Homo sapiens: one gene and its partners. The protein of the gene in region 1 interacts with the protein of each later gene in a pairwise test. Each region holds a gene or a part of one and is shown in the gene's direction. Other genes may lie near its edges. The genes, in order: MRM1, AQP3, SYT3 and GSN.

Region 1 (5,743 bases):
ACACTCTCTTCAGCATGCAAGCAAACATTCCCCTCTCACGCTCTTGATCTCACACCAGTCAGCTCTTCCTCTCACACTGAATCAAAGGCTTCATCAAGGTCACCAGTGGCCTCCATGTTGCTGCATTCCAGGGTCTGTTCTCAATTCTTTTCTGACTTGACCCATCTGCAGCAGCTGGCACAGTTGACCACTCCTTCCTCCTTGAAACACTATACCTGCTTTCCTTCTGCTTCACCATGTCCTCTCTGAGAGACATTTTTAGTGGTTCTTCCTCAACCCCCTGACTTCCGAGCATTAGCATTTCCCAGATTTTAGTCCTCGGATCTCTTTTGTTGTTGTTGTTAAGAGATGGGGTCAGCTGGGCACAATGGCTCACGCATGTAATCCCAGCACTTTGGGAGGCTGAGGCAGGCAGATCATGAGGTCAGGAGATCAAGACCATCCTGGCTAACACGGTGAAACACCATCTCTACTAAAAATACAAAAAATTAGCTGGGTGTGGTGGTTCGTGCCTGTAGTCCCAGCTACTCGGGAGGCGGAGGTAGGAGAATCGCTTGAACCCGGGAGGTGGAGGTGGTAGTGAGCCGAGATTGTGCCACTGCACTCCAGCCTGAGTGACAGAGTGACGTGTCAAAAAAAAAAAAGAGATGAGGTCTTGGCCGGGAGCGGTTGTTAAGAGATGGGGTCTTGGCCAGGCACGGTGGCTCACGCCTATAATCCTAGAACTTTGGGAGGCTGAGGCAGGTGGATCACCTGAGGTCAGGAGTTCGAGACCAACCTGGCCAAAATGGTGAAACCCTGTCTCTACTAAAAATACAAAAATTACCTGGGCATGGTGGCGGGCACTTGTAATCCCAGCTGCTCGGGAGGCTGAGGCAGAAGAGTTGCTTGAATCCAGGAGGCGGAGGTTGCAGTGAGCCGAGATCACAGCGTTGCACTCCAGCCTGGGCAATAAGAGTGAAACTCTATCTCAAAAAAAAAAAAAAGAGAGAGAGAGAGAGAGAGAGATGGGGTCTTGCTGTGTTGCCCAGCCTGGAGTCCAGTGGCACAATCACAGCTCAGTATAGCCTCCGAATTCCTGGGCTCAAGCCATCCTCCCACCTCAGCCTCCTGAGTAGTTGGAGATACAGGTGCACACCATCTCACCTAATTTTTTTCTTTCTTTTTTCTTTTTCTTTTTTTTTTTGTAGAGATGAGGTCTCACTTTGTTGCCCAGGCTGGTCTCAAACTCCTGGCTTCAAGAAGTCCTCCTGCCTTAGCCTCCCAAAATGCTGGGATTACAGGCGTGAGCCACCTCACCTGGTCCTGGATCTCTTTTCTGTATATGTTCATTTCTTGTTGGTCTCATCTAGTCTCATGGCTTTAAATACTATCTGAATTCAAATTCCCGCCCAAGTGTATACTCCAGCCTGGACCTTGGTTCTGAATTCCAGATTCACTCATCTAGTTGCCTACTGCACAGTTGTTGTTATTGTTGTTGTTGTTTTGCTGTCAGGCGGGCATTTCAAACCTAACATTTCTAAAACTGAGCGCTTGTTCCTTCTGGAGCAACTCCATCCCTTTGGTTGTTTAGGTCAAAAACCTTGGCATCATCCTTAACTAAAGTTATTTCCGTATTATCACCATTTCTGCCTGTTTCCACTGCTACCACTCTGGCCCAAGCAAGTCACCATCATCTGTTGACCGTTATTGCAGAAACTTCCCACCTGGCCTCCTTTCTTCTGCTCTTGGCTCTCAGCACAGCAGGCAGAGTGATTCTGTTGAAGTCATACCATGTTACTTCTCTGCTCAAAACCTTTCAAAGCCTCTGTACCGCTCAGATTCAAAGGCAGAGTCCTTCCAGTAGCCCTGGAGACCATACCTCATGTGGCTCTTGTTCCTTCTTCTGTCTTGACGCCTCTCTTCCCACTGGCCACCTTACTGTTCTCAAACATGCCAGGGAGGCACCTGCCTCTGTGCTTGCTGATCTCTCTGCCTAGAATGTTCTTGCCCCAGATGTCTGCACGGTGCTCCTCCTTCTCCTTCAGGTCTGCACTCAAATGTCACCTCAGTGAGTCCATCCCCACCTGCCCTTCCACAAGGCTGGGATTTTGGTCTGTTTTGTTTTGTTCAGTGCCCTGTCCTCAGTGCCTAGAACAGAGCCCATGCTAGGTGCTTAATAACTATTGACTAATTGACTGGATCAGCAGATAAATGAATGTATGGGCAAGGCTGGGCTCTTCCTTGGCCAGGGCTCTGATGGATAATTTTTTTTTTTTTTTTTGAGATGGGGGTCTCACTCTGTCACCCAAGCAGGAGTGCAGTGGCGCAATCTTAGCTCGCTGCAATGTCTGCCTCCTGGTCTCAAGAGATCCTCGTGTCTCCTGAGTAGCTGGGATTACAGGCTGATTTTTGTATTTTTAGTAGAGACAGAGTTTCACCATGATGCTCAGGCTAGTCTTTTTTTTTTTTTTGAGACAGAGTGGAGTCTCGCTTTGTTGCCCAGGCTGGAGGCAGTGGTGTGCTCTCAGCTCACTGCAACCTCCGCCTCCCGGGTTCAAGCGATTCTCCTCCCTCAGACTCCCAAATAGCTGGGACTACAGGCATGTGCCACCACACCCAGCTAATTTTTTGTGTGTTTTTAGTAGAGACGGAGTTTCACCATGTTAGCCAGGGTGGTCTCAAACTCCTGACCTCAGGTGATCCGCCCGCCTCGGCCTCCCAAAGTGCTGGGATTACAGGCGTGAGCTACTGCGCCTGGTTTTTTGTTTTTTTTTTTAATTTGAGATGGAGTTTCACTCTTGCTGCCCAGGCTGGAGTACAATGGCGCAATCTCGGTTGACTGCAGCCTCTGCCTCCCGAGTTCAAGCGATTCTCCTGCCTCAGCCTCCTGAGTAGCTGGGATTACAGGCATGCACCACCATGCCCGGCTAATTTTGTATTTTTAGTAGAGACGGGGTTTCTCCATGTTGTTCAGACTGGTCTCGAACTCCCAACCTCAGGTGATCCCCCTGCCTTGGCCTCCCAAAGTGCTGGGGATTACAGGCGTGAGCCACCGTGCCTGGGCCAGGCTAGTTTTGAACTCCTGACCTCAGGTAATCTGCCTGCTTCAGCCTCCCAAAGTGCTGGAATTACAGGCTTGAGCCACTGCATACAGCCTCTGATGAAGATTTGATGAATTAGAATAGGAGAGGCAGGCATGGTGGCTGACGCTTGTAATCCTAGCACTCTGGGAGGCCAAGGTGGGAGGATCGCTTGAAGCCAGGAGTTCCAGACCAACCAGGGCAACATGGCAAAACCTCATCTCAAAAAAAAAAATGCAAAAACTAGCCGGGTGGGGTGGCGAGTGCCTGTAGTCCCAGCTACTTGGGAGGCTGAGGTGGGAGGATCACCAGAACCCAGGCGGTTGAGGCTGCGGTGAGCTGTGATCGTGCCACTGCACTCCAGCCTGAGCGAGAGTAAGACCCTATCTCAAAATTAAAATAAAAAAAGAATTAGAACATATCTTCTTCCCCCTTTCAGACCAAAGCCCAGCAGGGCTGGCTCGTGGCCGGCACGGTGGGCTGCCCAAGCACAGAGGATCCCCAGTCCTCCGAGATCCCCATCATGAGTTGCTTGGAGTTCCTCTGGGAACGGCCTACTCTCCTTGTGCTGGGTAGGTGGATGTCCCTGCGTTTGTGCCCAGATTACATTTCCCGAGCAACTGGGTGTCCAGCTGGGCAACCCTAACCCTCAGCCCCACGCCCTGCAGGGAATGAGGGCTCAGGTCTATCCCAGGAGGTGCAGGCCTCCTGCCAGCTTCTCCTCACCATCCTGCCCCGGCGCCAGCTGCCTCCTGGACTTGAGTCCTTGAACGTCTCTGTGGCTGCAGGTGAGTCTACTCCCCTTTCCCTTTCCTCTATCCCTCTAATCACGCAGGTGGGATTTGATGCCCTCTAATCCCATTTGCTGGCTGTTTGTGTGCCTCAGTTGCTTTATGTACAAAATGGGGAAATTACATCCCGTTGATGAGATGAGGGGCTGCCTGAATGTCTAGGTCTCTAAACATCATCCTTCTCCTCCGTCCTCTCTTCCCTTGTCCTTGTGTCTGTGCAGGAATTCTTCTTCACTCCATTTGCAGCCAGAGGAAGGGTTTCCCCACAGAGGGGGAGAGAAGGCAGCTTCTCCAAGACCCCCAAGAACCCTCAGCCAGGTCTGAAGGGCTCAGCATGGCTCAGCACCCAGGGCTGTCTTCAGGCCCAGAGAAAGAGAGGCAAAATGAGGGCTGACGTGGACTGTCCACAGTGTTCATGTGCTGGAGTCAGGGACGGCCGCACCTGCCTCCGCCGGCTCCAGTGTGCGGGGAGCCTCTGCCTGAGTGTGCACCAGGCCCATGTTTATTGACCACAGTCTGGGGGGGGGGGAAGGGGACTGCGGTGGACACCAGAGGAAGCTGTTTCCTGTTGTGATGTTGGACCTGTAGTAGGACATGGTGATTTGTTAATTTCCATGGGAAGCCATGATGGCCTAGCATGGAGGGAATCTGTTCCCAGGCCCTGCCTGGAAGTTGAGGGAAAGTTTAGACATCTGCAGAGAGGCAGGCAGCCCAGCCCAGGGGACCCGTTCCTCTTGAACCAGTCATTGCCTGTGGCAAATGTGTGTATGAGAATGTGGGGGGTGGAGGGCGGGGCCCTGATGTGGAGTAGACAGTGCGCACCTCAGGCCCACACACGGCCCCGCCCTGGGGCCTTGAGCGCAGGCCTCATCTTTCTGTGCCGCGGGACTCCGCACCTACCTCACAGGGTTGTTGTGAGGCTCAAATAAAACATCACTCAGCACGTGGGAGATTCTGGCCAATTCCTCCGTTAGGTGGCAGCCTCGCTCTTCGGTCCAGTCTTCAGGCAGCTTCCACAGCCTCCTTGCGGGGAGACTCCTGGCTGCAGCCCCATGAGAGGCGACGGGAAATTAGCAAACACCTCCCACCCCACGGGGGCCCCCCACGGGTGACTGAGTCAGTTCCCTTCAAGGGGAGGAACTGGGAGCAGGCTTGCCGTTGATTGTACAACCGAGACAGATTTGGCACTCCTCCCCTCGGGTCCCAGGAAAGCAGCAGGAGCCAGCAGTGTGAGGAGCATAGAAGTGTTTCTGTCCTGGTGGCACATTGGAACCACCTGGCATGCTTTAAAAAACCCAACACTGACACCAGAGAGTCTGACATGATGGGTGTGGCGCCACCTGGCATCCGGCTTTCGAAAGCGCCACCATTGGTCTAATGTGCAGCCAAGGCTGAGAATCACCACTAGGGCAGGTGGACTCAAATTCCACACCCTTGACATTTTGGGCCAGATAATTTTTTGTTGTGAGAGCCATCCTGTGCACTGTAGGATGTTTAGCAGAATCCCCGACCTATACGCACTAGATGCCTGTAGCATGACCTCTCATTATGAAACCAGAAATGTCTCCAGACGTTGCCAGATGGCTTCTAAGAGACAAAAATCTCCCCTCCTGGAGCATGGCTTTGGAGGATAGCAACCCCGAACTTGCAATCCTGACTGCTATGTGACCTTGGGGGGGCGCTCCTTACCCACCTGGGCCTCGGTGCCCTCCTGGGCGAAAGGGGAATAATCCTACCTTCCTGGATTGTTGGGAGAATATGGAGGGCAATAGGAACTCACATGTATTAGGTGCTCAATAAATAGTACTCCACTTTTCTCTGGAATCCATCTGCATTGGATTTGTCTCAATTCTAATAATGGCAATGCCAATTTAGAGCAACACTTAAAGT
Region 2 (8,239 bases), on another chromosome or scaffold:
ATGTGTGTGCAGGTTGCTTTTTTGTTTATTTGCTTTTTGAGACGGAGTCTGTCTCTGTCGCCCAGGCTGGAGTGCAGTGGTGCGATCTCTGCTCACTGCAACCTCAGCCTCCTGGGCTCAAGCGATTCTCTGGCCTCAGCCTCCCGAGTAGCTGGGATTACAGGTGCCTACCACCATGCCCGGCTAATTTTTTTTTGGCGAGGGGATAGAATTTCGCTCTTGTTGCCCAGGCTGGAGTGCAATGGCACGATCTCGACTCACTGCAAGCTCTGCCTCCCGAGTTCAAGCGATTCTCCTGCCTCAGCCTCCCAAGTAGCTGGGACTACAGGCGCACACCACCACACCTGGCTAATTTTTGTATTTTTAGTAGAGATGGGATTTATCCATGTTGGCCAGGCTGGTCTCGAACTCCTGACCTCAGGTGATCCATCTGCCTTGGCCTCCCAAAGTGCTGGGATTATAGGAGCAAGCCATCGTACCCGGCCTAATTTTTGTGTTTTTAGTGGAGACAGGGTTTTACCATGTTGGCCAGGCTGGTCTTGAACTCCTGAGCTAAAATGATCTGCCTGGCTTGGCCTCCCAAAATTCTGGGATTACAGGCATGAGCCACTGTGCCCGGCTCCAGGCCAGGTTCCTTTTTTTTTTTTTTTTTTTTTTTTTTGTGATGGAGTCTCGCTCTGTTGCCCAGGCAAGAGTGCAGTGGCGCCATCTTGGCTCACTGCAAGCTCTGCCTCCCAGGTTCATGCCATTCTCCTGCCTCAGCCTCCCGAGTAGCTGGGACTACAGGCGCCCACCACCACACCCAGCTAATTTTTTTTTATTTTATTTTTAGTAGAGATGGGGTTTCACCTTATTGGCCAGGATGGTCTCGATCTGCTGACCTTGTGATCCGCCCACCTCAGCCTCCCAAAGAGCTGAGATTGTAGGCGCGAGCCACCATGCCCGGCCTCCAGGTTGCTTTTATAAGGGAAGAGGAAAAGAAATAAAAAATAGAAGTGTGTGTAGTGTCTGCTGGTGAAAGAGCTTCCCCTGTTTTTCTCCCCTGCTCTGGTTCCCAGGCTAGATTTGGATGCCAGCAGACCCAGGATGGGACAGGGTGACAATGGGGTGTTGTGGGCTGGGTTTCCCTATTTTCTTTCGGTGTTGAGGAGTCCCTTGCCAGTTTCTGCCCTGTGCTGCCTTTGCAGCTCCACTTGAGGCAGGGATGGGCTGGATGCATATTATAGGGTGGGAGGAAAAGGGGGCAGCATGGCAGGGGTGCTCTACCACTCCCATAGCCTGTGATCTGGGCCCTGGCACCAGGAGTCTATGGTTCTGTCTTGAGTCACAGGCTGGCAGTGGGGCCAGAGGGCAGGTACTCAGTGATGGCTCCCTGATTCACCACGGGGCCTCCCAGCCTATAGAGGCCTGGAGGGTAGGGTGCATCTTTCTGGGTCAAGGGTCATTAGAGTCCTCATGTGGGGGTTCTATATATGTGTGAGCCCATGGCGAGGCTCTCATGTGAATGGGATCCCTGATCATGGGAGCAGAGCTCAGTGTCTATAGGCAAGTGTGTGACTGCAAACCACAGGGTGTGTGTGTGTGTCTGTGTGTTTGTGTGTGTGTATGCGCAAGCACCTGCATGTATGTGAATCTACTTCATGTGTATGCTAAACCCATCTCTTTGGGCATGAACCACCTCTGGGACTGGGAGCCCTTATTTCCTTTCTTTTCTTTTCTTTTTTAACATGCCTATCTAGGCCAGGTACGGTGAATCATGCCTGTAATCCCAGCACTTTGGGAGGCCGAGACGGGTGGATCACCTGAGGTCAGGAGTTCGAGACCAGCCTGGCCAACGTGGTGAAACCCCGTCTCTACTAAAAAAAACAAAAAACAAAAAACAAAAAAATTGGCTGGACATGGTGGTGCATGCCTGTAATCCCAGCTACTCGGGAAGCTGAAGCAGGAGAATCGCTTGAACCCAGGTGGGGTGATCTTGGCTCACTGCAACCTCTGCCTCCTGGGTTCAAGTGATCCTCCTGTCTCAGCCTCCCGAGTAGCTGGGATTACAGGCATGTGGCAGAGGTGGTTGATGCCCAAAGAGATGGGTTTAGCAATACTCATAATCCTACAATCCAAGCACTCTAGGAGGCCAAGGTGGGCAAATTGCTTGAGCTCGGGAGTTCCAGACCAGCCTGGCCAACATGGCGAAACCCCTTCTCTACAAACAATACAAAAATTAGCCGGGCATCGTGATGCATGCCTGTAGTCCCAGCTATTTGAGAGGCTGAGGTGGGAGGATTGTTTGATCCCATGAGCTAGAGGCTGGAGTGAGTCATCATCCATGTTTTTAAGAGCTTGTTTAGCTTCTTCTGCTACCTCTCCTGACACAACCTGTCCACTTGAAGGGTCCATGCCTATCTGTCCTGAAATGTCAATGGTCCTGTCACCTAACATAGTTTGACTGTAGGTCCCAGTGGCCCCTGGGGCTTTCTTGGTGCTGATCACATTTCTGATCAAGGACGACAGGACTAACCCTTCTCTCTTTTGGTCCCTCTGGGAGAAGAACCTCTGCACTAGCCCTGCTCGCTTCTCAATGAACCGTGGGAGCCCTTTTTTTTTTTTTTTTTTTTGAGATGGAGTTTGGCTCTTGTTGCCCAGGCTGGAGTGCAATGGCATGATCTCAGGTCACTGCAACTTCCGCCTCCTGGGTTCAAGTGATTCTCCTGCCTCAGCCTCCCGAACAGCTGAGATTACAGGCACCCGCCATCACGCCCGGCTAATTTTTGGTATTTTTAGTAGAGACAGGGTTTCACCATGTTGGTCAGTGTGGTCTTGAACTCCTGACCTCAGGTGATCTGCCCGCCTCGGCCTCCCAAAGTGCTGGGATTATAGGCGTGAGCCACCACGCCCAGCCGGGGGCCCTTATTTCTCATATTCGTCCCTCAAGGGACAAGTCCTCAGGGTCATTAGCCCACCTGGATTAAGTCCCTCTGGAAAATGATTTCTTTGATCTCCTCTGGCAATGCTGCCATAGAAGCTCAGCCTAAGGGCATGTTGTTTGCTCCCAGGCCACCAGATGTTTCCTTGTTATTAAAAGCAGCATAGAGGGCAAGGTTGCACTTCGGGAGGCCGAGGTGGGAGGATCGTTTAAAGCCAGGAGTTTGAGACTAACCTGGGCAACATAGCAAGACCTCATTTTTACAACAGATTTTTAAAAATTAGCTGAGTGTCATGGTGGCACATAGTCCCTATAGTCCCATCCATTCTGGAGGCTGAGGTGGGAGGATCACTTGGGCCCAGGAGTTCGAGGCTACAGTGAGCTGTGATTGCACCACAGCCTGGGTGATGGAGCAAGACCCTACTCTTTAAAAAGAGAGAGAGGGCAAGGTTGTCCCATGATCCCCCTCAGATAGGGCTGACTCCCCCATAATTAAGTTTGCTTAAAGAGGCAGACTTGCTGGGCTCAGTGGCTCACGCCTGTAATCCCAGCACTTTGGGAGGCTGAGGCGGGTGGATAACTTGTGGTCAGGAGTTCGAAATCAGCCTGGTCAACATGGTGAATCCCCATCTCCACTAAAAAAACAAAAATTAGCTGGGCATGGTGGTGTGCACCTGTAATCCCAGCTAATCGGGAGGCTGAAGCAGGAGAATCACTTGAACCTGGGAGGTGGAGGTTGCAGGGAGCCGAGATCACGCCATTGCACTCCACCTAGGCGACAGAGAGAGACTCCGTCTAAAAAAAAAAAAGAGACAGACTCTTCCTTGGCTGGGGGTAAGTCAGATGGGAGAGGAGAGGGTTAAAAACAGCTGGGACTCAGCCTGCTGGCAAACATGTGGCATGTGGCATGTCGGGGCAACTGCAGCTCAGCCTCTGGAGCCATGTGAGCAATGCACGCAGGTACACGTGTGACAAGCTAGGTCACCTAGCCATGTTCAACAGGCATGTGCACAGCCACGAGGAATGCCCAGCCGTACAATTAGGCACACAGGACATCCGCCATGTGTAGACACAGCTGTGGACATAGCTGGCCAGGACATGCGACACACGACGTGCTCATAGCACAGGGAGAAGGGCCCATGAAGTCTGGTTGGAACTCAGCACGTGTGTCTGTGTGCCCACCTGAGTCTGGACTGCTGCCCCTCTGACACTAGCTGTCCCCTTGAAGGGTCGGTGCCTTATCTGTCCTGACAGAAGAGACAGTGTTGCTTCTCACTTGGGGCTCGCAGCCTCCTCCTCCTGCCTCGAACTGAGGATCTGTTGGGTCCAGTCATCCTGGAGAGATGCGGCCAGTTTCTTTCTGACAGGTCTCCTCCTGCCCGCAAGGAAGTGGGGTGATCACAGGGCGCAGGTGGTCTCTATGACAGCTGCATCCTCTCCAGCCATGGCCCTGAACCCTGCCTATAATCCCACCATTGGCTCTCAGATCTGCCTAAGCCTCTCAGCCCCCTTGACGTCCCCTCCCTTAAGCGCCCTCCGAAGGCCACCCGTCCCTCAAAGCTCCTCACACTCCATGCCCGCAGCTCCCTCCACCCGGCGTCCGCACCAGCCTCCCAGCCGAGGTGGGGCGGGGGCGAGGGGGCGCGCACTCCTCGGCGCTCCGGGACTGCAGGGCGGGGCTGCAGGGCGGGCGGGGCCCGTGTCTCCAGCGCTCCTATAAAGGGAGCCACCAGCGCTGGAGGCCGCTGCTCGCTGCGCCACCGCCTCCCGCCACCCCTGCCCGCCCGACAGCGCCGCCGCCTGCCCCGCCATGGGTCGACAGAAGGAGCTGGTGTCCCGCTGCGGGGAGATGCTCCACATCCGCTACCGGCTGCTCCGACAGGCGCTGGCCGAGTGCCTGGGGACCCTCATCCTGGTGGTGAGTGGAGGGAGCCGGGGAAGCCCTTCTCTCTCCAGCCCTTGCACTCCCCAAACTCTCACTTCCCCGAAGGGGCTGTGTTTTCCAAGGTAGCCTGGACCCACCTCCCCAGCTGTGACCCCCACGCTTAACCGCGGAGGATCAAGCTGACTTCCAAAGTCCTCTTCCCCACGGTTCTAACCCCCTCTCTGACAGCTCCGACTCTTGCCAGAATGACAGCTGTTACTCCCCAGTGATAGTGCCGATCGTTTACCCTCCCACAAGTGACTCAGCCAACAGGCTGGGGGCAGCGGTCACGCTTGCAGTCTGGGACAGCCAGCCACTTCCCCTGCCTCCCACACCCCTCCAGATTCCCAGAATCCCAGCCCCCAGATGTAGGGGAGGGGGCGGAGGCAAATGAGCCATTATTAGGTTATTTGGGTCCTGGGTGTCTGGCCTCTAATGAATAATTAAGCCTCAAAAAGTCCAAAGGTTGAAGTGAGTGAGGACAGTTTGCACGAGTGGGGGCAGAGGGTGCAGGCCACATGGGCTGCGAACAGCGAAGTGGGAAGGGAGGCAGATTCTGACGGTAGAAGGGTGGGAGGAAGCTAGGCCCAGGCACAGAGGACGCGTGTCTAAAGTTGCTCACCTGGTGCTCAGCGACTCCCAGGCCCTGTCTGTTATCCAGACAGATGCTGTCAGCGTCTGTGCAGAAGACGACAAGCATTCTGGTTACTCCCTGGCCTCTTGGTTACTCTGTGGGTTCTCTGAGTGAGCATTTCCCTGCCTGAGTTACTCCTCAGTCCTAGTTACTCCTTGGTCACACCAGTTTCACCCTGGTTTTGTTCTGAGTGACTCTGTTTGCACTTCTTAGGTCTGGCAGACCCACCAGTTATGTTCTATTTCCTGTCCCAGTTACTCTGATTTTTCAGCCGCTCATGTGGTTACACCTGTTTTCCTCTGTGTTCAGTTGCTACATTGCAGTGAGTGGGTTACTCCGTTCCTGCCCCAGCCCTGGGTAGTACAGACCAGCTGGCCCACTGTGGACTAGGAAGCCTAACTAAGGGCAAGTAGGGATCCCCAAATGGTTGAGGATCAGGATCTATGGGCAGAGGAGGGCTGAAACCCACTTCTGGCTTCCAAGAATAGGAAGTGGGGAAGCCACAGGGGGCATTTTATCCACAGCCTCCCATAAGATTAGTCGTCCTATCAGCCAGCCCTAGCCCCTCTCTCCTGTGCCAAGAAGGCAATAGGAGGTGGCCTTTATCACTCTCCTGCCTCGGAGCCCTCACTCCTATCGGAGTCCTGAGTCCAGCCACCTGTTTTAGAGCAGCCAGGCTAGGGGAGGATGATGTCTTCTATTTTCCTAGAGGGGCCTCCTCATTCCCTCCCAAGTCTCAGTTCACTCTCTCACAAAGGAGCCGTTAGTCCTCCCACTGAGCCCCAGGATCATCAGGCTTATCCCAGACCACAAAAGAAGAGTGTTAAATTTTAGGGGAAGGGTTGCAGACTCAGATGGATGTGAGGTATTGGATATCAGTGAGAAGCAGAACTTCAAGGACTGCATGAACTGGAGGGGCAGGCCTGGGGATCCCTTTGTAGTGGGTGAGTGCCTGCCTGCCTACCTGCGTGTTGGGAGCCTAGGCCTGCAGTGGCAGAATCAGGGTTGGCTTTGGGGTGAGGAAAGCCCCTTTCTCTGAGATACCTGGTGTGAGGGCAGGGGGCGGTGCTGGCCGAGAACTCAGGGCAGGGGTTGGGGGAGGAAGAGGAAGATTAGCCCCAAGGTGGTGGAACTGGCTCTGACAGCTCCTCCCTCCAAGGCGTCCTGGGATGGAGCCAGGTCTGAGCCTTTGGCAGGCAAGGAGCTGCTGCCAGGGCCTCCCAAGCAGGGCAGGGCGCCTCAGACCCTCACGTGCCTGTCTCCCACCACCCCTCCTCACACATACACCTGCAATCTCTGATCTTTGCTCTCACCTGCCTGCACACCTTTGCCCCATGTCATTGCCGCTGGCTTCTCCGTTATCTCTTGGTCTTTCTGGGATGATAATCAAAATGCTTAACTATCCAGTACAACAGGCACTGACCCGTCAGAATAAACAAGGTCTGTAGCACAGGTCCTGGAAACTGCCTGCTCTGTGGGCATAAAACCTTTAGTTATGGGCAGGTGGGAGAGGAGACCAGGGCAAGGCATTGGAGCAGCTTTGAGGGACACTCAGGGGGCTCAGGGCAACAATGCTTTACAGCTGCTGCAGAAGTATTTTCAGGCTTGAACAAGGGGAACAGACATAGTACGTTCTTTTTCTTTTTTAAATAGAGACAAAGTCTCACTATGTTGCCCAGGCTGTTCTCAAACTCCTGGGTTCAAGATCCTCCCATCTCAGCCTCCAAAGTGCTGGGATTACAGGTGTGAGCCACCACAGCTGGCTCCAGTATGTTCTATATTTGTAGAACACCAGGGCTCTTAGTCTCTTTTAGTTCCCCCATTTTTGGCAGAAAGTTTAGAACCGATCTCCCCATTTCTACAGCCCTGGGTCCCGGGCTGGGGATAGTGAGAGGAGCCACACAGATCCCTGTCTGTAGGACCTCCAAATCTGAGTGGGGAATCTGGACCCCTGAGAGCAGAGAGGTCATGGGTGGAGAGAGGAGACGCTGGGACAGGGACAGGTAAAGGAAGGGGAGGTTGTTGAGGGGGACATGGTGAAGGCTGGGGCTCTGGCATCCTGGACTCAGGAGAAGTGGATTCAACCTCACTTCTGGTCTCCTCCCTATTTATTTATGCCGCCCATTGCCACCACTACCACCACCACATGAGCTTTTCTTTTCAACTCTTTTTTTTTTTTTTTTGAGATGGAGTCCCGCTCTGTCGCCCAGGCTGAAGTGCAGTGGCGCAATCTTGGCTCACTGCAACATCTGCCTCCCATTTTCAAGTGATTCTCCTGCCTCAGCCTCCCGAGTAGCTGGGATTACAGGCACCTGCCACCACGCCTGGCTAATTTTTGTACTTTTAGTAGAGATGGGGTTTCACTATGTTGGCCAGGCTGGTCTCAAACTCCTGACCTCAGGTGATCCACCCACCTCGGCCTACCAAAGTGCTGGGATTACAGTGTGAGCCACTGCACCGGGCCTACATGAGCTTTTCTTTGGGGCAGCTGGGGGATGAGTGAGAGGCTTCCCACCTTTATGGTCCAGGCCTGAAGGGCTGTGGAGAAACTTGTGCTAAGGTGAAAGCTGTTCCCCTACACCTACGCCTGCTGAAATTCAAGGAAAATCAGTGAAGATGGTTCAGTCATCTTCTAGGATCCCAGTCGCAGACCCTGCTTCCAGCCCTTTCCATAGGGCCCTCTCATATTAGAGTTGGGACAGTGGGGTGGGAAGGCATGTGTCCTTTTTCTGGAAAGTGCAATTACAGCAGAAGGGGTTTG
Region 3 (7,861 bases), on another chromosome or scaffold:
ATGCCCCCCAGATACCAATGGGGAATCTGAGGCTCAGAGAGCACAGTGGCTTCCTCAAGCTCACACAGTGAGCAAAGGAGGGGACTTGTGGCCACCTGGCTGGGGGATGGGGGGAAAGGCAGGGAGGAGTCTCCCAGGTCTCTGCATGCAGTCGAAGATCAGAGCCACTGACCTCACCTTGGTCTCCCCCCAACCCCCTACAGGTACCCAGCCCTGCCCCGACCCCTCACCCAGCAGACTCTGACCTCCCAGCCGGACCCCAGCAGTGAGGAGCGGCCACCTGCCCTGCCCTTACCCCTGCCTGGAGGCGAGGAAAAAGCCAAACTCATTGGGCAGATTAAGCCAGAGCTGTACCAGGGGACTGGCCCTGGTGGCCGGCGGAGCGGTGGGGGCCCAGGCTCTGGAGAGGCAGGCACAGGGGCACCCTGTGGCCGTATCAGCTTCGCCCTGCGGTACCTCTATGGCTCGGACCAGCTGGTGGTGAGGATCCTGCAGGCCCTGGACCTCCCTGCCAAGGACTCCAACGGCTTCTCAGACCCCTACGTCAAGATCTACCTGCTGCCTGACCGCAAGAAAAAGTTTCAGACCAAGGTCCGGAGCAGCGGGCTGGACACCGGGTTCCCACAGAGAGGGAGCTAGGGCTCTGGACTCCCGGGTCTGAGGGAGGAGGGGCTGGGGGCCTGGACTCCCGGGTCTGAGGGAGGAGGGGCTGGGGGCCTGGACTCCCGGGTCTGAGGGAGGAGGGGCTGGGGGCCTGGACTCCTGGGTCTGAGGGAGGAGGGGCTGGGGGCTGGACTCCTGGATCCTGTGGAGGAGGGGCTTATGGGCACGGTGTCTGTCTCCTGTCGCCCACCACCACCAGGTGCACAGGAAGACCCTGAACCCCGTCTTCAATGAGACGTTTCAATTCTCGGTGCCCCTGGCCGAGCTGGCCCAACGCAAACTGCACTTCAGCGTCTATGACTTTGACCGCTTCTCGCGGCACGACCTCATCGGCCAGGTGGTGCTGGACAACCTCCTGGAGCTGGCCGAGCAGCCCCCTGACCGCCCGCTCTGGAGGGACATCGTGGAGGGCGGCTCGGTCAGTGGCCCTCTCCCCTGACCTTCCCCTTCCCAGGGCCCTGAGACCCCCCGGGTTGCAAGCCCCCTGCCCTCAGAGTTCATAACTTCCTCACTTCTTGTCCCCACATTTTTCTGTTAAAATGTATCACACTGGGGAAGACTGCAAACTTACAGGCAAGAATAGAGAATGAGCCGGGCGCGGTAGCTCATGCCTATAATCCCAGCACTTTGGGAGGCCAGGTGGGCAGATCACTTGAGGTTGGGAGTTCGAGACCAGCCTGGCCAACATGGAGAAACCCCATCTCTACTAAAAATACAAAAATTAGCCGGGCATGGTGGCACATGCCTGTAATCCCAGCTACTTAGGAGGATGAGGCAGGAGAATCGCTTGCACCAGGAAGTGGAGGTTGTGGTGAGCAGAGATCATGCCATTGCACTCCAGCGTAGGCAACAAGAGCGAAACTCCGTCTCAAAAAAAAAAAAAAAAGAACAGATAATGATACAGTGGACACCATTCCTCTCCTCAACATCGCCAAATGTTAGCATCAGGTCTGGATCCGATTTTCCAACCTCTCACCCGCTTTGCCATAGGATGCCTTCCTGCCTCAACCCCATGACTTCTCCCCTCTCACCCCAGACTTCTTACCTTCCTAACTTCCTGACTTTCCAATGACTGGACTTCTGGAAGCCCCAGTCCCTCTCTAATCTCTGAACTTCTGAAAGCCCCAATCCCTCTCTAATCTCTGAACTTCTGAATTTTCCCAACCCCTGACATTGGAACTCTTTCATATTCTGACCCTCTGTTTTTTCATGGTCCCTGCCCGAATGCTGATAGCTTGATCCCCCAGGCCTCAGCCATCCTGGGATCCCCAATATGCAGACACTCCTCAGTTCTCCCAGCATCCAGATTATAGGGCCCAATGGCTTCTTCCTTATTCCTTGCGACCCCTGCCCTCTGGTATCTCATTCTCCCTGTACCTCCAATCCCTCCCCAGCCCCATTCTTAGGTACTTCTTGTGTGTGTGTCCTGAGCTCTTCTGCCCCACCAAATCTCAGATCCTCAACTCTACAGCGCCCCCGCTCCAACCTAATTTGTGGATTATCCAACATTCCAGTTCTCTGCCAATCTGGGGTAGCTGTGTGTGTGTTGTGGGGAGGGCGGCCTTCATATCAGGAGAGGACTAGACCTCCTCAAGGTTCTTTCCTTTTCTGAGCCTCAGTTTCCCCATCTGTTCAATGACAGATGTCCAGTTGAGCTGGGTGCCAGGTAGGCTTTTTGGGTAGCTCTTTGGGTAGGCTTCTTCATGGGGCCCTCCCCAGCCTGCCTGCTTGGCCCCCAAGCCCAGCCTTTGAGATTGAAGTGCCCAGTTCCAAGGTCCCAGGGCCCCTGTGTATTCCACCAGCTCCTACTCCCAGTCATCACCCATGGCAGCCCCATGCCAGGGCCTTCTCTCTGTATCCATGCTGGCCTAATTCTTGTGCTCACCCTTCTCATTTTCTCTCTCCATCATCATCACTTGAGGTTTTCCTCACTCATTCCATTGATTCATACATTCTCTCTCTCTCATTTTTTTTTTTTTTTTTTTGAGACAGAGTCTCTCTCTGTCACCCAGGCTGGAGTACAGTGGCGCAATCTCAGCTCACTGCAACCTCCACCTCCCGGGTTCAAGTGATTGTGATTCTCATGCTTCAGTCACCCAAGTAGCTGGGATTACAGGCACCTGCCACCATGCCCGGCTAATTTTTGTATTTTTAGTAGAGACAGGGTTTCGCCATGCTGGCCAGGCTGGTCTCGAACTCCTGAGCTCAGGTTAACCGCCCACCTCAGCCTCCCAAAGTGCTGGGATTACAGGCATCAGCCACTGCACCCAGCCTTCATTCATTTCTTCAACCACTGTTTTTTTCAGGAGCAGGGCCTGGGGACCCCAGGCAGCCCTCGGCAGCTCCAGGTCTAGATGGTCGGGCCTTGTGTCAGGGGCCAGGGTTATGGGGAGGCACAGGAGGAGCCTCTGCAGGGCTGTGGGGGATCTGGGAGCTTGTGGAACGAGGGGAGGCTCAAAGGCCAAGGAGAGATAGAGGGAAGAGTGTTCTGGCAGAGGGACAGCCTGGGCAGATGCCCTGAGGGGAATGAGTAGGGAGTCCTGGGCACAGTTGGGAGGCCGCAGGGCTAGGCCAGGTTGGTCAAAGCTCCCAGCTAGCTCCAGCGTGGCTCCAGCCTGTGTGTCAGGGTTGGGGGCAGTCCTGGAAACTTCGGTGGAGGTTGATGAATCTCCTGCCCTCTCTCAGGCTGGTTTATGTGTGTGTGTCTGCTTGGTCTTTGTCCCACTCTGTCTGAGTCAGCCTCTCTCTCTCTCTCTCTCTTTCTCTTGGTGCAGGGAGTAGGGTATCTGAGTCTAGGTTTCTCTCTCGCTCTCTGGTCTCTGCCCCTCCACTCTAATTCTAGGTAACTATCACTCTCTCTGGGTCTTTATGCACCCCCAACCCACTGTCTCTGTCCCTCTCTCTCTCTGGGCCTCTGTCTCTCTCTGAGTCTCTCTCTATATATATCTCTCTCTCTTTCTCTCTCTGGGTCTCTGTACCCCCTGTCTCTGGGCTTCTGTCTCTCTCTGGGTCTCTATCTCTCTGTCTCTGGGTCTCTGTCCCCCTCTCTGTCTGGGTCTCTGCCCCTTTCTCTCTCTGGGTCTGTCCTCCTCTCTCTGGGTCTCTGTCCCCCTCTCTTTCTGGGCCTCTGTCCTCCTCTCTCTCTGGGCTTCTGTCCTCCTCTCTCTCTGGGTCTCTGTCCTCCTCTCTGGGTCTCTGTCCCCCCCCCTCTCTCTCTGGGCCTCTGTCCCCCTCTCTCTCTGGGTCTCTGTCTCCCTCTCTTTCTGGGTCTCTGTCTCCCTCTCTCTGGGTCTCTCTCTGTGTCTGTCTCTGGGCCTCTGTCCCTCTGACTTGAGAACTTTGCCTGTGGGTCTGTCTTTCCAGCTGTATCCCTCCGTGTTTTGGCTTCTGTCTCAGTCTATTTCTCTTTGTGTTTTCTCTCTCTCTCACCTTCTCTGTCTCTCCCCTCCTCTCTCTCTCCCCTCACTCATGCTTCTTCCAATCTTTCCTGCAGAACAAATAAGCTTTGATGGTCATGGGCAGCTGTGGCCAGGGAATTACTGGGCCTTGTCCCAAGAGTCAGATTGCTAAGTGGATGGGAAGCCTGAGCCCTGGATGTCAGGGTGTAAAGCAGGAGGCTCCGACCGGAGAGAAAATCAGGGAGAGTTGAAGAGGGGCTGAGGCAAGATATCGCTGACCTTTTCCCCAACTGCAGGAAAAAGCAGATCTTGGGGAGCTCAACTTCTCACTCTGCTACCTCCCCACGGCCGGGCGCCTCACCGTGACCATCATCAAAGCCTCTAACCTCAAAGCGATGGACCTCACTGGCTTCTCAGGTGAGGGTCCTGGGTCTGAGGGAGGAGGGCTGGGGGCCTGGACTCCTGGGTCTGAGGGAGGAGGGGCCAGGGGCCTGGACTCCTGGGTCTGAGGGAGGAGGAGCTGGGGATCTGGACTCCTGGGTCTGAGGGAGGAGGGGCCAGGGGCCTGGACTCCTGGGTCGGAGAGAGGAGGACCTGGGGTCTGGACTCTTGGGCCTGAGGAAGGAGGGACTGGGGGCCTGGGGCCCCGGACCTCTGGGTCTGAGGGAGGAGGGGCTCGGGGCCTGGGGTCCTGGACCCCTAGGTCTGAGGGAGTGAGTCTCTGTTCCTTACTTCATTGCTGTTCCCAGACCCCTACGTGAAGGCCTCCCTGATCAGCGAGGGGCGGCGTCTGAAGAAGCGGAAAACCTCCATCAAGAAGAACACGCTGAACCCCACCTATAATGAGGCGCTGGTGTTCGACGTGGCCCCCGAGAGCGTGGAGAACGTGGGGCTCAGCATCGCCGTGGTAGACTACGACTGGTGAGGGGCGCGGCCCGGGCGGGGGTCAGGCAGGAGGGCTGGGGTGGGGACAGGCCCTCCCACCACCCTCCACGGTCCTCACTGACCCCAACCCCCAGCATCGGGCACAACGAGGTGATCGGCGTGTGCCGTGTGGGCCCCGACGCTGCCGACCCGCACGGCCGCGAGCACTGGGCAGAGATGCTGGCCAATCCCCGCAAGCCCGTGGAGCACTGGCATCAGCTAGTGGAGGTGAGTAGGGGTCCCACACCGACCCCTGACAAGCACCCGTGCACCCTCGGCCCCTTCATCCATGCAACGAACGCCCTGCATGTTCGTGAGTCGCAGAGCCAGGCGTCCTAGGTTTCAATCCCTGCTGTGCCAACTTTAGCTGTGCGGCTTAGAGCCAGTTACCCAAGCGCTCTGTGCCTCAATTTACCCACTAGGAAATGGGACTGTTGATAGCATCTTCTGTTAGGATAGAGGTGAGATGTGCTGAGTTAAACGTTCTGTAGGTGGTCGCTGCTGTTGTTACCCATGAGGCTAAGTTGAAAATAGAGGGGGCTGGGCGTGGTGGCTCACGCCTGTAATCCCAGCACTTTGGGAGGCCGAGGAGGGTGGATCACCTGAGGTCAGGAGTTTGAGACCAGCCTGACCAACATGGAGAAACCCTGTCTCTACTAAAAATACAAAATTAGCTGGGCGTGGTGGCGCACGCCTGTAATCCCAGCTACTTGGGAGGCTGAGGCAGGAGAATCGCTTGAACCTGGGAGGCAGAGGTTGCGGTGAGCTGAGGTGGCGCCATTGCACTCCAGCCTGGGCGACAGAGCAAGACTCTGTCTCAAAAAAAAAAAAAAAAGTCATTTAAGATTATCGCTTGATCAGGAGAAATAATCAAACATGGCCATTCTCTCAATAGAAAACAAGAGGAGCAAAGAAGTAGCTTTAGAAAGTGTTATTGGCAGATTTGCCTCCATTAAAAGCCAAGAAAGTCAAATTATTCAAATTCTGTCTAGGGTATATATGAAAGATTTAAATGTAAAATAATGTTGTGAATTTCAACACACTTACTTCATTTTTCAGTATTTTTCAACTAGTTTAGCATTCCAGGAAAAATAAATTTAGAAAAAATATATAAAAACTTGGGCAGGGCACAGTGGCTCATGCCTGAAATCCCAGCACAGGCCTTGGGAGGCCAAGGTGGGTGGATCACTTGAGCCTGGGAGTTTAAGACTAGCCTGAGCAACATGGGGAGAGCCTGTCTCTACAAAAATAATTTAGGAATTAGCTAGGCATGGTAGTGTGTGCTTATAGTCCCTGCTACTCAGGAGGCTGAGGCAGGAGGATCTCTTGAGCCCAGGAGTTTGTTACTGCAGTGAGCTATGATCTCACCACCACACTCCAGCCTGGGCAATGGAGCAGGAACCCCTCTCCTTAAAAAAAAAAAAAAAGCAAGTATATGAGGGCACATACATTTCCTTTGAAATAGCAGTCTGATGTGGCATGAGACTGGCCTTTTTTAAAAATTTGATATTTTCTTCATCATTGATTTTTTTGCATTAATTTTGATTTTTTTTAAAATCTTGCATTATTATTATTATTGTTATTATTGAGACAGAGTCTCACTCTGTCACCCAGGCTGGAGTGCAGTGTTGCAGTCTTGGCTCACTGCAACCTCCCCCTCCCTGAGTACAAGTGATTCTCCTGCTTCAGCCTCCCAAGTAGCTGGGACTACAGGCGTGTGCCACCTCACCCTGCTAATTTTTTTTTTTTTTTTTTTTTTTTTTTTTTTTTTTTTTTGTAGAGACAGGGTTTTGCCATGTTGTCCAGGCTGGTCTCAACTTCCCACCTCAAGTGATCCACCCACCTTGGGCTCCCAAAGTGCTGGGATTATAGGCGTGAGCCACCGCGCCTGGCCAATATTGCATGAAATATTCTTTATCTTGATTGCTGCATTTGGGGCACACATTTACATTTAGTACTGGGTGAAACTTTCACCACATCACCAGATTTAGTCTGGCCCTGCTGTGGGCTTTTTTCCAGTGATCATGAGGGACCCGACACCTGGGCACAGAACTCAGATTTGAGATTGGAAAAGACGGGGACTCTACTAAGGTGGATAGGATGGAGGCTACTCCCTCCTCCTGTCATTCACTCATTCATCCGTTCATTAATTCATCCCACCAACCTTCCCAGGAGTTTCTGGTGAGCCACTGCCCATGTTGGGCAACGCTGGTGGCACAGAGTCTAGGCCGAGTCCTGACACTGCCCATGAATTTCAGCCCCTCATGCTCCCTGTGGCCCCAGAAGATCCTTCTACACCCAGAGCTTCCCCTCCCCTTCCTTGCTCACAGCCCTCCCGTGGCTCCCCAGTGGCCCCAGGACAGAGTCTCAGCCCCTCTGATACCATGCAGGACTTGCCCCACTCATCCCTACAGCCTCATCTCTCCTCGCATTTGCAGAGACTCCTCTTTTTTGTGCCTCCATTTCCCCATCTGTAGAATGGAATTGTAATACCATCTGTCCGTCACTTCAGGGCCAAGTGAGAAAGCGCATCCTAAATAATGAAACAGGATTGACGTCTTCTCCTGTTGATGATTAGCATCTGTTTCAACTCTCTGTCTCTCACTCCCGAACCTTCTGCACTTTCTCCTTTAGGAAAAGACTGTGACCAGCTTCACAAAAGGCAGCAAAGGACTATCAGAGAAAGAGAACTCCGAGTGAGGGGTAAGCAGCCTGGCCACAGGGAAGGGGCTGGGGGTGGAGATGCCTGCGTCTGAGGGAGGAGGGGCTGGGGGCCTGGACTCCTGGGTCTGAGGGAGGAGGGGCTGCGCCTGGGACTCCTGGATCTCTGGGTGGTGATGGAGCTACAGGAGGTCGTGGTGCAGTTCTCTGCCATT
Region 4 (7,861 bases), on another chromosome or scaffold:
TGGAATTACAGGCATGAGCCACTGCGCCCGGCCACCTGCTTTAGAAACTCACTGTGAAAATGGGTTGGAATATGACTCCAGGATATCATTAGAAGAAAAAAATCAGTTAAAAAATAAATAAAAGAAAAATAAAAAGAAAACTAAGAAAATGGATTGGAGGCAGGAAAATGAAGGTAGAGAGCTTATAAGGAGCTTGTTCTAATACTGTAGGGGAAAGATGATGACCTTGAGACTAAGAAGGTCACAGTGGAGAAGGGGAAGAGGGGTGTGGGGTTCAGAGGTGTTTAGGAGGTAGAATCCGCCTCAGGCAAACTTGACTCCGTTCCTAATGATAGGAATAACAAAGTGTTCATTTTTATATATTATTGTTTTTGGTTTGGTGCTAGCATTCATTTGTTGCTTCAGTGGCTAGGGAGAATGCAATGAAAATATTTCGGGTGGGGCGGTGTGGTAAGACCCCTGGCAGCCTGACTGTGAGACTTTGGGCAAGTTACATAACCTCTTTGAGCTTCACTTTCTCACTTGTAAAGTGGGGTTTCATCCCACTCCATCACCTTCAAGAATGTTCAAAATCCAGAGATTCTAGGATTCTGTTTCCCAGGACTTGGACGACTCCGTGTCTCCATAGCTCCACCAGGTGGCGCTGCCGGGCCTCGTGACCACTTGGAAAAAGCAGTGTCACCAGAACGCTGCGGAGACCTGCCAGCAGGGGTCACACTGAGGTTGCCTCGTGGTGTCCCTGCCTCTGCAGGTGACCTATGAAATTCCTGGCAGGCCCAGCACAGTGGCTCACGCCTGTAATCCCAGCACTTTGGGTGGCCGAGGCGGGTGGATCACCTGAGGTCAGGAGTTCGAGACCAGCCTGGCCAACATGGTGAAACCCCGTCTCTACTAAAAATACAAAACTTAGCTGGCCATGGTGGCAGGCACCTGTAATCCCAGCTACTCGGGAGGCTGAGACAGAAAAATTGATTGAACCCGGGAGGCAGATGTTGCAGTGAGCCGAGATTGCGTCATTGCATTCTAGCCTGGGCAACAAGAGTGAAACCTCGTCTCAAAAAACAAAAAAAAAAAAAAGAAAAAAAGAAAGAATCCAGGCAGCTCAGTAACAATAGAGGTAATGGTGATATTAGTAAGATAATAATAATAATTATGACAATAAGAGCAGCTGCCACCTACAGAGCAGTCCCTTTGTGCCGGGCCCTGTGCTAGACTTTCACGAGTAATCTCGTTTGAGCCTCACAGTACTTTGAGGTAGGTACTATGATTATCCCCATTTTTCAGATGGGAAAACTGAGGCTAAGAGTGGTTAAGCCAGTTGTCTGAGGTCTCATGGCCCGGAAGGGGATGAGGGGCCTGATTTGGGGTCTGTGTCTGGCTCCTCCCCTCACTGTACTGCATTCCTTTGGAGCTGCCTTGACGATCCTCAGCGAAGGACAGACGGGCTGGGGCAGGGCATGGTATGAGGAGCCCAGGCAGGAACCCTGACCCAGAGTCCCAGCCCTGCCTTCTAGTGGCTCTGTGAGTTGGGCAAACCATTTAACTCCAGTCCGAGCCCAAGTGATTAAAAGTTCATCCCATGGCCTAACCACAACCTACCACACTGCGGTTTCCTGGCTTGCCTGAGCTGGGGGGTGGGGGTGCTGCACAGCATCTGACTCCAGCTTTGCTCCTGCAGATCTGGAGAATCGAAGGTTCCAACAAGGTGCCCGTGGACCCTGCCACATATGGACAGTTCTATGGAGGCGACAGCTACATCATTCTGTACAACTACCGCCATGGTGGCCGCCAGGGGCAGATAATCTATAACTGGTGAGGTTCTGGGGCCATTGGTGTGTGTCGTGGGGGTACTGGCTGGGCCCTGAGCAGGGCTGAAGACAAACTGAGGGTGTGAGGGCCTGAGGTGGGACCACCACTCCCTGCTGGGAGAGGCTTTTGTCCACAGGGCAACACCATTTGCTTATTTCTCCAAACAACTTTGAAACTCTTCTTACCAAATGATTATACATCTATTGTAGGATATAGTGAATGTGGAGAAACAAACAGAACATCTCCCACAAATCCATGACAAGTACTAGGCACACTAGGGTTTATCCTCCCACACATATTTTTCAAGCCAAAATTTTTTTAAATTTATATTTGTTTATTTATTTATTTATTTATTTATTTTGAGACAGAGTTTTTCTCTTGTTGCCTAGGCTGGAGTGCAGTGGTGCGGTCTCGCTCACTGCAACCTCTGCCTCCCAAGTTCAAGCAATTCTCCTGCCTCAGCCTCTCTAGTAGCTGGGATTACAGGCACCCACCACCATGCCTGGCTAATTTTTTGTATTTTTAGTAAAGACGGGGTTTCACTATGTTGACCAGGCTGGTCTCGAACTCCTGACCTCAGATGATCCATCTGCCTCAGCCTCCCAAAGTGCTGGGGTTACAGGAGTGAGCCACCACACCCAGCCCCAAAATTATTTTAAAACAGAGAATACATTTACATGGTTCAAAAATCAAAACAGAATATAAAGGTATTTATTGAGAAATCTTATTCCCACCCCTGTCCCTCTCTACCCCATTCTCCAGACCCCACCCCTTCTTGGGTAACTGCTTTACTCTCTTGCATATCCTTCCAGTAACTCTTCGTGAAAAAAAATACATATGCAAATAATTTATAGCCTGGTCCCTCCCTTCCTTACACAAAAGGTAGCATACTTTGTATATTGCCCTGCACCTTGCTTTTCTGACTCCATTCTTCCTAGAGATCAATAATGTCAGTACATAGAGACAGAGAGCTTTCTCATTCTTTTTTACAGTTGCATAATAGTCCTTTGGGTGGCTGTACTATAGTTTATTTAACAAATTCCTTGATGATGCATACTTGGGTTGATTCCAGTCTTTCTCTATTACAAACATTGCTGTGATTAGTAACCTTAAACAAACATCACTTTGAACATGCAGAGACATGCCTCTAGAGTAAGTTCCCAGAAGTCAGATTGCTGGGTCAAAGAGTAACTGCACTTGTCATTTTGGTAGATAGCCCCCAATTTCCCTCGATAGTGTTCGTAGCATTTTACATTCCCACCAAGCAACCTGTGAGAGTCCCTGGTTCCCTATAGTCACACTCGTGGATTGTGTGGTCAAACTTTTGGGCGTTTGCCAATCTTATGGTTTATAAAATGGTGTCTCAGTGTATTTTTAACTTGTATTTCTCTTACTATACAGTCTAAAACTTTTTGTCTGATTATTGACTGTTGGATTTTTTTTTTTTTTTGAGACAGGGTCTTGCTCTGTTGGCCAGGCTGTAGTGCAGTGGTACGATCTCTGCTCACCACAACCTCTGCCCCCCGGGGCTCAAGCAATTATCGTGCCTCAGCCTCCTGAGTAGCTGGGACTACTTGCCACTACTCACCACCACACCCGGCTACTTTTTATACTTTAGTATGGATGGGGCTTTGCCATGTTGCCCAGGCTGGTCTCGAACTCCTCTAAGCGATCTGCCTGCCCCAGCCTCCCAAAGTGTTGGGATTATAGGCATGAGCCACCACGCCAAGCTGGATTCCTTCTTTTTTTAAACTTATTTTGAAATAATATTAGACACTTGCTGAAAAGTTGCAAAAATAGTACAGACAGTTCTCATATATCCATTACCCAATGGAATATTCACCTATGTTCACATCTTACATAACCCTTACATAACCATAGCACAATTAACAAAGCCAGGAAGTGAACATTGACACAATACTACTTACTAATCTATAGGCTTTACCTAAATTTCCTCAGTTTTCCCATTACCGTTTTTTTTTTTTTTTTTTAGACAGAGTCTTGCTCTGTCGCCAGGCTGGAGTGCAGTGGCATGATCTCGGCTCACTGCAACCTCTGCCTCCCAGGTTCAAGCAATTCTCCTGCCTCAGCCTCCTGAGTATCTGGGACTACAGGTGTGCGCCAACACACCCAACTAATTTTTGTATTTTTAGTAGAGACGGAGTTTCACCATGTTGGGCAGGCTGGTTTCGAACTCCTGACCTCAACTGATCTGCCTGCCTTGGCCTCCCAAAGTGCTGGGATGACAGGCATGAGCCATCGTGCCCGGCCCCCACTACTGTTCTTTTCCTGATCTAGGATCTAACCCAGGATCCCACATGGCATTTACTCATCATGTCTCCAAAGTCTCTGAATCTATGGCAGTTGCCCGGTCTTTCCTTTTTTTCATGCCCTTAACACTTTTAAAGGGTACTAGTCAGTTATTTTGTAGAATGTCTCTCAATTTGACAACCCCAGACATTTAAAAACAGCTTAATTTTTTTTTTGACTAGATAACACATTCACCTGGTACAAAATGTGTGAGAAGACTGTTTTAAAAATTAGCTGCATCAGCGCATTAATAGGTCAGATTTTGTTTGCTTATACGACGACATATGTTGGTTATGGAAAACTTAGACAATATGCAAAGAGGTGGGATAGAAAGGCAAAATCCCCCTAAATCTTCCCTCTAAGAGCAATCACCATGGACCTTTTTGGTGAACATCTGTGCAGACCTCTCTGCACGTGTTCATGGGAGGCTTAATCACTGACATCTTTTCCCACAAATAGGCTCTCGTAACACTTGCTATTCTGCGACCTGCTTTTCCGCCCAGAGAAATGTCCTGGCCACTTTTCTGCATCTCAGATTTGAGTCTCAGAGCATCTTCTCTGTGGCTGTTCAGCATGGGATGACCCAGCCAGTCTCCTGTGGGACACATTTAGCATAAGGAAATCCATGCGTTGCACTAAGATCTCTGTAAGCGGGCAAGATGCTAGGCTGAGAGTGGAAGTGTTGGTGTGGTTCCTGGCTCTCGTTGTTCTGAAAGAGTCCCCTTCCCTCTCTATCTGTTTCATTACTGGTAACAGGGAGATGTGTAGGTTTCTCAGACTCAGGGCAAGGGAGAGGCTCAGGGCTCTGTGTGCACCCTGATGCTGAATCTCACTTCCCCTTCCAGGCAGGGTGCCCAGTCTACCCAGGATGAGGTCGCTGCATCTGCCATCCTGACTGCTCAGCTGGATGAGGAGCTGGGAGGTACCCCTGTCCAGGTGAGCCCAGCCCACCGCCTCTCTGGGCTGCAGCCTGAGCCTTGTCCTTCTCTTCACTCATCTGTCTGACTCTCATCCATCCATTCGTTTGTCCATCTGTCTGTCTGTCCATCCATCCATCCATCCATCCATCCATCCATCCATCCATCCATGGAACAGGTATTTATTTAGGGCTTCCATGTGTTCCACACTGCATCTGTAGCCATGGACACACAGACACACTGTCCCTGCCCTAGTGGACTTTGCTGTCTTGGGTGGTAGTAGACATTCAACACACAGGCACACCAATGGCTATGACAGATGCAGTGAGTGAAATTGACAAGACCTTGGGAGAGAGACATGGGAGAGGCCATGTGGCTGAGCACGGATGTGGAACCAGCATGCTTGGGTTTGAATCCTGTCCTCACCTCTGGGCAACGTTGGGCAAGTCACTTAGCCTCTCTGTGCCTCTGTGTCCTCAAAATAGGGGTAATAACAGTACCATCCCACAAGATTGCTGTGAGGATTAAGAGTTAACATTTGTAAGCATTTAGAATCATGCCTGCCATATAAGAAGTGCCCCCTTATACATATGTGTTAAGTACAAGGAGGTAAATCCTAGGTAGGATCCTATTGGATTAGAAAAGCCCACCCCTGTCCCAGGAGGGGACTGTTCAACTGGGACCTGATGCACGTGTAGGAGTTGCCCAGGCAGAGTGAAGGAAAGCACATTGTGGGTAAAGGGTGGTACACATGCAAAGGCCCTGAGGTGGGAGGGGGCATTGGGTGTTAAAGCAAGGGGAAAATGCCATGATTTGAGGCTAGAGAGGTGCTCAGAGGGGCCAGACCACCAGAGGCCATAGTGACGATGTTGACCTTGATGCTGAGAACAACAGGAAGTTGCTGAATGATAAGTCTGAGGTGTAGGGATTTCTGGTTTAAAAAGTCACTCTGGCCAGGCGCTGGAGGGCAGCAGAGCTGGTTTGTGGAAATATAGGGGAAGCGGACAACAACTGTGCTTCCTCCGTCCTACGGTGGGAGTGGGCAGGGCTCTAGATTGGCATCGGGGGTTCGTGCCCTGACCTTTGACTATGATAGACTGGGTGCTGGGCACTAAATGAGATGATGACCATCTTAGCTCAGTGCATCCTGACAACAGCCTTGGGAGTAGCATCCTTGGCTGCATTTTTCAGAGGAGGAACTCAAGAGGTTGAGACACGTGCCCAAGTTCTCACCATCAGGGTGGAGTTGGGGTCTAAGCCCTAACTCAGCGGTGGTGGGTCGTGGTGGGAAGCGACTGCCATATGCCTGACGTACATGTGAGGTTTTCTTCTGGACATAGTTAGCCGGGGCCACGGTAAGGTGCCGCACACAGGGCAGGAGCAGATGTGAGGGTGTACATCTTCCCTGCCTCACTCCCACCACCAAGCCCCTGACTGCTGCCCGCATCTGGGGTGCACTGGCTCTGCAGGAGGGGGTTTTCTGGATCTAGAATGCTCTGTTCTTACCACTCCACCAGCAGTCATGCCCAGGCCTGACGTCAGCATTCTGGAAGAATGTCCACCAGCAATCCCTGTGCTTCTATTTAAGGGAACATTTGCAAACACAGGCTCTCCTGGTTCTTGGACCAGGCTGAGGATCAGGAAGGCATGTCGTCATGGAGATGGAGAGCAGCCCAGCAGCAGTGCCCTGGGGACCTCAGACAATAGCACTGTCTCCACCCTTCCTGGAATTCTGGTGTCCCTGCCTGTGTGTTGTCGGGTCACATTCCATGCCACACACAGACACAAGCATGATGGCTTCGTCTGGAGGGATGGGCCCAGTGCGACATAGAAGGACTGAAGCCTGCCCCCAAGGTCCCTGACTTGCTCTCCTGTCTCCCTGCCAGAGCCGTGTGGTCCAAGGCAAGGAGCCCGCCCACCTCATGAGCCTGTTTGGTGGGAAGCCCATGATCATCTACAAGGGCGGCACCTCCCGCGAGGGCGGGCAGACAGCCCCTGCCAGCACCCGCCTCTTCCAGGTCCGCGCCAACAGCGCTGGAGCCACCCGGGCTGTTGAGGTAATTTCCAGGTCCTGGAACACAGAAGGGATTGGCCTCCCTGAAACCTCCCAGCTCAATGACCAGATCTCCAGGCACAGGAACGGGGGCAGGGGATGGTGAATGACGGGGTAAGAAGCAGCTTTTTGTATTTTCCTGCCGTGGCCACAGGGTTGTCTGTCTTAGACTCCCCCCTGTTTCAAGGATACCCAGTGTCCCTTGCACACTTTGCACAGTGGACAGCTCACTACCTACCATTCTGTACAATCAGCATGCCATTCCTGATTACGTTCCAGTTGCCTACTATCCCTTTCACGGAGGAAGGCACAGATCTGGACTTGATTCCCAGGATGGTCTGAGCAGCCTAGAGGGGAATGGGACTCTCACCTCCTTTGTTCTGGGCATTCAACTTCTGTTAATGCAGCCCTGATTTTTAGAATCATGTTGGCTAGTCACAGTGCATTAGTGACTCATGGGAGTCAACCAAGGCCATCAGGGTCCAAAGTCTGTGCCCTCAGCTCTGATGGGCTGTGTTCCTCCAAGTCCCCACCTGAGAGCTAGTCCTGCTGCGGGGTCTCCTGGGCTGTGAGGAGGGGGCTGAGGGCTTTTTGTCTGGTTCCTGATTAACCAAGCTGTACCCTCCCAGGTATTGCCTAAGGCTGGTGCACTGAACTCCAACGATGCCTTTGTTCTGAAAACCCCCTCAGCCGCCTACCTGTGGGTGGGTACAGGAGCCAGCGAGGCAGAGAAGACGGGGGCCCAGGAGCTGCTCAGGGTGCTGCGGGCCCA

What was found.
Region 2: the proteins of MRM1 (region 1) and AQP3 interact in binary tests that used the Homo sapiens proteins (3 or more experiments, as listed by UniProt).
Region 3: the proteins of MRM1 (region 1) and SYT3 interact in binary tests that used the Homo sapiens proteins (3 or more experiments, as listed by UniProt).
Region 4: the proteins of MRM1 (region 1) and GSN interact in binary tests that used the Homo sapiens proteins (3 or more experiments, as listed by UniProt).

Annotation. Positions count from the first base shown.
Region 1 is NC_000017.11:36,604,169-36,609,911, forward strand, and holds the end of MRM1 (rRNA methyltransferase 1, mitochondrial precursor), read left to right. Parts: intron 1-3,501; coding exon 3,502-3,634; intron 3,635-3,730; coding exon 3,731-3,850; intron 3,851-4,074; coding exon 4,075-4,247; 3' UTR 4,248-4,796; downstream 4,797-5,743. UniProt on the Homo sapiens protein: S-adenosyl-L-methionine-dependent 2'-O-ribose methyltransferase that catalyzes the formation of 2'-O-methylguanosine at position 1145 (Gm1145) in the 16S mitochondrial large subunit ribosomal RNA (mtLSU rRNA), a universally conserved modification in the peptidyl transferase domain of the mtLSU rRNA.
Region 2 is NC_000009.12:33,444,022-33,452,260, reverse strand, and holds the start of AQP3 (aquaporin-3), read left to right. Parts: upstream 1-4,667; 5' UTR 4,668-4,730; coding exon 4,731-4,838; intron 4,839-8,239. UniProt on the Homo sapiens protein: Aquaglyceroporins form homotetrameric transmembrane channels, with each monomer independently mediating glycerol and water transport across the plasma membrane along their osmotic gradient. Could also be permeable to urea.
Region 3 is NC_000019.10:50,622,514-50,630,374, reverse strand, and holds part of SYT3 (synaptotagmin-3), read left to right. Parts: intron 1-203; coding exon 204-591; intron 592-862; coding exon 863-1,081; intron 1,082-4,357; coding exon 4,358-4,478; intron 4,479-4,810; coding exon 4,811-4,982; intron 4,983-5,080; coding exon 5,081-5,213; intron 5,214-7,619; coding exon 7,620-7,685; 3' UTR 7,686-7,688; intron 7,689-7,861. UniProt on the Homo sapiens protein: Ca(2+) sensor involved in Ca(2+)-dependent exocytosis of secretory vesicles through Ca(2+) and phospholipid binding to the C2 domain.
Region 4 is NC_000009.12:121,319,590-121,327,450, forward strand, and holds part of GSN (gelsolin), read left to right. Parts: intron 1-1,678; coding exon 1,679-1,812; intron 1,813-4,964; coding exon 4,965-5,055; intron 5,056-6,922; coding exon 6,923-7,093; intron 7,094-7,718; coding exon 7,719-7,861. UniProt on the Homo sapiens protein: Calcium-regulated, actin-modulating protein that binds to the plus (or barbed) ends of actin monomers or filaments, preventing monomer exchange (end-blocking or capping).